2 linked regions of the Homo sapiens genome follow. The protein of the gene in region 2 purifies or fractionates together with the protein of the main gene of each other region. This does not show direct contact. Each region holds a gene or a part of one and is shown on either strand. Other genes may lie near its edges.

Region 1 (4,286 bases), on a different chromosome or scaffold from region 2:
TCACACAGTAGGGAAGAGGAAGACTTCAATCTGGAATCTATGTCTGCTGACTTTAGTCTCATGGTCTTTCTTCTGGATTAAACTGTTTCTATGCTGGCCAGACTCCGGTAATGTAAGCTTCAGTGCCACTATTTTTTAAGCTGTATTTGTCAAATGAAATGTTTATTAAGCCTCAGATAAAACTGAACACTTCTTCACTAGACGGCAACTCCTTTATTTTTTTTTTTTTTTGAGATGGAGTCTCGCTCTGTCGCCCAGGCTGGAGTGCAGTGGCACAATCTCGGCTCACTGCCACCTCTGCCTCCCGGGTTCAAGTGATTCTCCTGCCTCAGCCTCCCGAGTAGCTGGGATTACAGGCATGTGCCACCACACCCAGCTAATTTTTATATTTTTAGTACAGACAGGATTTCATCATGTTGCCCAGGCTGGTCTCAAACTCTAGACCTCAGGTGATCCGCCCACCTTGGCCTCCTAAAGTGCTAGGATTACAGGCATGAGCCACTGTGCCTGGCCAGAAGACAACTTCTTACAAATAACAGCACTACATATGTCTCTCTCCCTAGTTACTTCCTTAGGATAAAGTCCCCAAAGTAGCCGGCTAAGGGCAAAGGGCAAATATGATCATTTTCATGATAACAGGCTGCCAGGTTGCTCTGCAAAATTAAATGCCACAGGCGAATCCCTATAGCCTTGCCAGCACAGAGTTTCATCTTTTTATTTTTATTTTTGCTAATTTTACAGGAATAAATACAGACTGCTTTCATTTATTATATGTTATGTGTTTTTTTGGAGAAAAAAAGGCACTCCAATCTTGGAATCAGGATCCCTGGGCTCGGTTGCTGGTTTGCTGTGTGACCTTTGCCCAGTCACATCCCCTCTGGCGACAGGGGATGCCTATCTGTAAAATGAGGGGGTTGAATGAGACGACGTCTGAAGGCTCCTTTCAGCTCAGACATTCCATGATTCCATGGTGCATTTAAAAAGTATTAGCAATTAAAGTCATAGCATGACTTTTTAATAACCAGAATCTGCCATGCTCCTAAATCAGGCCAAAAAGGCTTGAATTAGGCAAGCAGGAAAACAGGGCCCAGATTATACATGTGTCGAGATGACAGGAGACCCAGGTAGCACTTAAGCCTGTGCGTCGGAGCTGGGCTCATGGGCCAGCACATATACTTTGCCTGCTTTTACGAGGGGATAATAACACTCATTTGTGGTCCAGCTCCCAGTCCTGTGCAGCTCCACCATGGCCGCAGGGCAAGGTCATAGGCACTACTTCAGCCCTAGAATTCCATAGACTTTCAGTCCAAGGTAGCTCACCCCCAGGTTCTGCTTGAATACCTGTGATGACAAAGAGCTCACTACCTGTCCAGGGGCCTCCTGCCCTCTTTTGGCTGTTAAGAAAATCCCTGGGTGCAGGGCAGGTCATGAAGGGGACAAGAAAGACCAGGAGGCTGAGAAGTGATTCCTAGAAACTGCTCCCTCAAACAGGGCAGGCATCAGGGAGGTGGAGAAGAGGCCCCATGGGGCAGGAAAGGCCTGCAGAGGGGCTCCGGCTCTCCTCACTCCGGACCTCTCAGACGGTCCCCAGGAGGGGCAGGAAGCTGGGGAGACACATTCCAGTCCTGATGCACAGGTGGGTTCTGAACAAGCCCCAGGAAAGCGGAGGCCCCACAGCCTGCTCCAGGGCAGACACCTCGGCTCCCTCTTCTTGCCTTGGCTCCCTGGGATCTGATGGGAGAAACTGCTGGGCCTGGGGCTGCTGGGTCTGGAGATGAGCATATTTAAGGGACCTGACCACTGCCCCAGGGTGAGGGAGGAAGGGTCAGAGGTTGTTTGTGTGTCCAGAGCAGGACCAGCAGGAGAGGCAGTGACTGGGTAGCAGATTCCAGCTTGGTTTACAACTAGTGAGATTCCTATCACAAGGAGTGTGCAAGGGGGCAGCAAGACCTTCCAGAGGGGATCTTACAGAGGGGCTGGGCCAGATGCCATAGGTCTTCTTTACCTAGGGAGCCTGGGACCACAGTCCCTCAGACCTGTGCTCTGCCCCATCCCTTAATGCCACGCGGACACAGCACCTTGGCACTGTCACCCCTCTGAGGTCCAGGCGTGGCCGCCAGTCACCCCTTGTCACACCAGCTAGTGTGTGTCACACCTTATCACACACTAGCTCTGGGACACAGAGCTAGGCACCAGCACCTGGCCCGGGTGGGGAAGGGGAAGGAGCTATCCTATACCACTCTCTAAATCGAGGTGCCTACGTGGGGCTGGTCCAGGCAGTCGTGCCGCCAGGAGTCCAGCCACCTCCAACCTAGGGCTCCTCCAGCCCCAGACGAGTAAACCCTCTTGGCGGGCCGGCTGATGCCCCACATGCACGCCCAGGCCGGCTTGGCGGGGACCCGGGGATGCCCCCCACCCCACCGTTTCCTGTACCAGGAAGCTGAGGCCCAGCAGGTAACGCAGCCAAGAGGGGGAGGGTCCCGACAAGAGTCCCATGGAGCACCCGGGCCACAGCAGGGGCCTGTCGGGACCGGCTGGCCGCGCCCAGAGTGAGCTTCCCTCACCGCGGGCAGGAGGGGTGGGCGGTGCAGACAGTGCTCATGAGGGCAGCGAGCCGTCGGGAGCCCGGACCTCGAGGCGGCCCCTCCCAACAACCCCGCGAGAAGGGGGCCACCAATGAGCAAGCTATCCTGACGGGGAAACTGAGGCCTGGAGAGGAGCAGTGCTTTGTGCAAGGTCACGCAAAGGGGCTGAAAGCCAGGTCCCCCGCGCTCCGAGCCCCGCATCCCTCCCTCTCCGGGAGCTGCAGCCGCAGCGCGCACGTCCCGCCCGACGCCCCCATCGCGCAGACCGGGAAGGCACGGCCGGCGGCGCAGGGCCGCCCTACCTTGATGACTGCCGCGCAGGTGGCGGTGGCGGCGGCGGCGTCCAGCTCCGGCTCCGCGCTCCTCGCCGCCCGCCGACTCCCGGCGCCCAGAGCCGCCGCCGCCTCCCCCTGCAGCCCGGCGGGCGGGGCCGGAGGGCGGGGCGGGGGCCTGGCCCAAGGTCCGCCCTTTTGCCCGCCCCGCGGGTCCGCCCTGGCCACCCTTTTCCGCCCCCACGACCCCGACCGCGCTCCTGGCTCCCCGGGGCGGGTCTCGGGGCGCGCACACGTGCTGGGAACAGGCGCGCACACGCCGCAGTGATTGGGGCGGGCTGCCGGCCACCAGGCGGAGGCTGGGGACAGGCAGAGCCGCGGGCCCCACGTCGCGCCGTGCCCTCGCTGCGTGGTGTGGGATGAGGAACCTGACCTCCCGGAGCCTCAGTTTCCCCCGTTGTGAAATGGAGACAGTAACCGCGTCGGCCTCTTAAGGCTGTTTGAGCCCTGGATGTGACGATCCCGGCCGGGTACAGTGCGCGCGCCGAGCCCGGCCAGGGAAGCGCTCCTTTCCCCGAGCAGTTACAGCGGTTACCGAGGCTTCCCCGTCCGCAGGGAGGAGAGGAGCCGGGAGCGCCGCTGGGAACCGAGGAGGACGCCCTTCCTTCTCTCGGGACCAGCCGGGGGCGCTGCTGCCAGCCTCGCTGGCTGGAGAGCCCTGAGGACACTAGACAATGGGGAGGCCCTACCTTTGGGTACCACCCCCACCTAACACTACTGAGCCACGCACTCCTCTAAGCGCCTTCTGTGCATTACCTCGCTTCACTGTCACACAGGCCTATGAGGTTGATACCATTACTCACCTATTTAACACAAAAGAGCTGAGGCACAGAGATATTAAGTACCTAGGTTAAGATCACCCGGCTAGTCATGCAACCCCAGGCAGTATGGCTCCCACGGCTACTAAGCTAACAGCCACTCCACTCCACACCACGTCTGTGAAGAGCTCTTGGTTTTGTTCAGTAGAGACGGGTTATCTTGAGGGCCTTGAACTGCTCCGTGGCACATAGTAACCACTCAATATATAGTTGTGGAGTGGATAACAGAGTACACTGTTACTACTTTACATATCTGTATCGTTTCTTCTAAGCTTCTAATAATAGTGGCTTTATTTAGCCACTATTATTACCTCCATTTTACAGATAAGAAAACTGAGGCTTGGAGTGGCAAGGTACTTAGGGAGCTCTTGATTCTCTCCTTAGAATGTGACTCAGCTTCCATAGTCCACTGTACCACCCCCCTGCCCAGAGCTGGACGGGCTCCCTGCCTACCACCCAAAGCCCAGTGTGCACTATGGTCCTGAAAACCCCATCCTACAGCTCTGATTCAGACCTTCTGGAGCTGGATTGCCCAGCAGGTAGACTGAACG
Region 2 (2,715 bases):
GGGAGGGAGAAAGGAAGAGAGAGGGCTTGCGCGCGGGAGAGAGGAAGGGACGGGAGGGAGAGGGAATGGAAGACAGGAAGGGTGTCCCTTCTCAGAGGTCGCACTTTGTCAGCAGTTCCTCTCGACTGCTCTGCCTTCCATTTTTCCTTTCCTCAGTTCCTGGACAAGCCTCGGAGGACCAGGCAGAACCCTCTGGCTAGCAGAAAAGCTCGCACCCCCGCACCCTTGCGGCGTCTGCTTCAGACCCTCCACGCAGGCGCCCGCTGGAGCGCCTGCTGGGGATGGCGTACCACCGACCCTTCAGGCTTTTTAAAAACGTAAGAATTTCTACTTTATTATCTCTATGAAAAAAAAAATGTAAAGAAGAGAGGTTAGATTTTATAGAAGCTCCAAAGTCTGCCATTTGCGAGGAGGGTTCACTTCCCACCCACCCAGCCCACGGAAGCTCTTAGGAGCAGCCTGAACGGCCCCGACTCAGCCTCACGCTCTCTGACTTCCCCGCTCGCCCCTGACCCCGACTTCACTTAGGGCGGTCGCGTAGATATGAACTCTACAGCAGCCACTCTGCTCAGCGCATGTGGGGATCTTACAATCTCGACCCCGACCTCCAGAAGACCAGACGTTCTGTCTTGGGGCCTCCCTCCCGGCCCTTTAGCCTCACCCAGTGCCCGGTCCTGACACACCCCAGCACTACCAGACGAGGAAGGGCAGACTCTCCACACCAGGCTCAGCCGCTTTCCTTCTTCTCACAGCTCTCCAAGAGCTCGGTCATGAAGGAGATATAGACGATGGCCAGGCGGAGGGTCTCGATCCGGGACAGCCTTTTCTCGTAAGCAAACGTGGGCACCTTCCTCCGCAGCTGGTCAAAGGCCTCGTTGAGGTTGAACATCCGCTTCCTTTCGCGGATGTTGGCGGCCTGGCGCTGGGCGTAGGTGATCACCCTTTTCCTCTTGGGGCGGCCTAATAGGGAGACACCTCTTCCGCGCTCCTCTTCCTCCTCCTCTTCTCCGTCCCCCTGGTCCACTTCGCACTCCTCTTCTTCTGGGTCCCCCTCTTCAAACCGCGCCATCCTCCTGGGTCTTCCCTCTCGGAGCGCAAGGGCTGGGTCCCCCAAGGAGACCCCGGGTGCGAAGTCGCAGAGGAGAGGGCGTCTCGGGGAGGCCAGGGACAGGTCTGCGACGAAGTCCAGCACCGTAGTGTCCACGCAGCTCTCCGGATAGGCCGCCATCGCTTCGGCTTGGCCCTGCCTCTCATCGGTTTTCCGCAGGGAGGGGCGAGGTTGCTGGTGGGGATTCTTAACAGCCTTGAATCTGATGGGGCACCATCACCGAAAGGCCAGGGAACATTAAATATTTATAACCAAGCTGATAACAGGATTAGTCGCACCGATAAGGAATGCTCTGACAACGTCCCTTCTCTCGAAGCTTATGGAAGATGACAAGCTTGAGCACGCATGGAAGACTCAAAGGGACAGGGCTCCAGTTCTGAGATCCTTTTCTCTGCGCCACCCGGGACAGTTCCTTGTTGGCAACAACCCCCAGCTCTTACCTGCTGTGCTTTTTGTGTCTGTCTTCACCCCTGCAGCCAACTAATGTTCTCCAGGCTCCTTATCTCGTGTAGTTCTTTAATTTCGTGTTGGATTTTCAAAGCGAGGATGTTTTCCACCGCGATGGCTTCTCCTTGACTTCAGGGTAGGAGTCTTGAATCTTGCCACCATCTGCCAATGGATGTGGAGCAAGTGCATGTGCTTTTAATGATGTCCTGAAGAGGGGCCCTGCCTGCCTGGCATCAAGGGGAGCTGTTTGTCTGGTATCCCAGTGCAGCGGCTGCTGAAAGGCAAGACCTTCAATTAGCTTAAGTAAGCATGGCAGGGGGACCGAGAGTGCATTCCCCAGAGTCGCTGTTGGAACCGGCTTTCTTTTCTTTCCAGGGCATCGCAAACAGCTCTCCTGCCACGTTACAAACCCTGACTTCTAAAGTCTGTTTGGATGCAATCAGCGTAACAATTGAGATACTTGACTTTCCTTTCCCTACCTTTACCTCCTACTCATATAAAATAGAGGATTTTATTCCAAGAGGAAAAGTTATGATGGCAATAAAATGAGAAATTTAAGCTCAGGATATTTTCTATGCTCGGGCTTTGCTGTATACTTTTCAGTGTGGGGGACAAAGCAAACTCTCCTCACAAACAAAACCACTTCAAGCTCTTTTCAGAAATGCGATTTGCCCTTGATAAGCCAAAGAGTCAATCAGCTCACCCTCTGCTGAGGAGTCTTCGGACTTTTAAATTGCGGATCGAGTATTTGTTCCCGAACAAAGAAAAAAACCTAACACTTCCATCTGGCGTATTTTCCTCATTGATTTGTATTGTCCTACAGTAAGACTTAAGTGCAGAAACAATGATTTATTGAAATATATTTAAGGGAGTTTTTGGCTATCGTTAGATCGTTATTTTTGAGAAAAGAAAGAGATTTTAAATTTGGCATAAGAAAAATAAGAGATTACTCATTTTATATTATCTCGAGTATCCCAAATATTTTAACAAAAAGGTTCTTTTTCTTTGTTTGCCAATAACTATATTTACTTAATTATTCAGTACTGTGTAAAGATTTATTTAAAAGACCCATTGTGTCAAAGTGACAGATTAGAAGATAATTTTAAAGGTAGATTGGAAGAAATAGCCTAAAAAGATGAATGTAGAAACATCCCGGTTCA

Evidence for each region.
Region 1: the proteins of FERD3L (region 2) and CORO2A purify together in Homo sapiens (affinity purification with mass spectrometry; one large-scale study listed by BioGRID and IntAct). This does not show direct contact.

What each region holds. Positions count from the first base shown.
Region 1 is NC_000009.12:98,189,672-98,193,957, forward strand, and holds the start of CORO2A (coronin-2A), read right to left. Parts: upstream 2,967-4,286; 5' UTR 2,888-2,966; intron 1-2,887.
Region 2 is NC_000007.14:19,144,135-19,146,849, forward strand, and holds FERD3L (fer3-like protein), read right to left. Parts: upstream 1,288-2,715; 5' UTR 1,229-1,287; coding exon 728-1,228; 3' UTR 648-727; downstream 1-647. UniProt on the Homo sapiens protein: Transcription factor that binds to the E-box and functions as inhibitor of transcription. DNA binding requires dimerization with an E protein. Inhibits transcription activation by ASCL1/MASH1 by sequestering E proteins.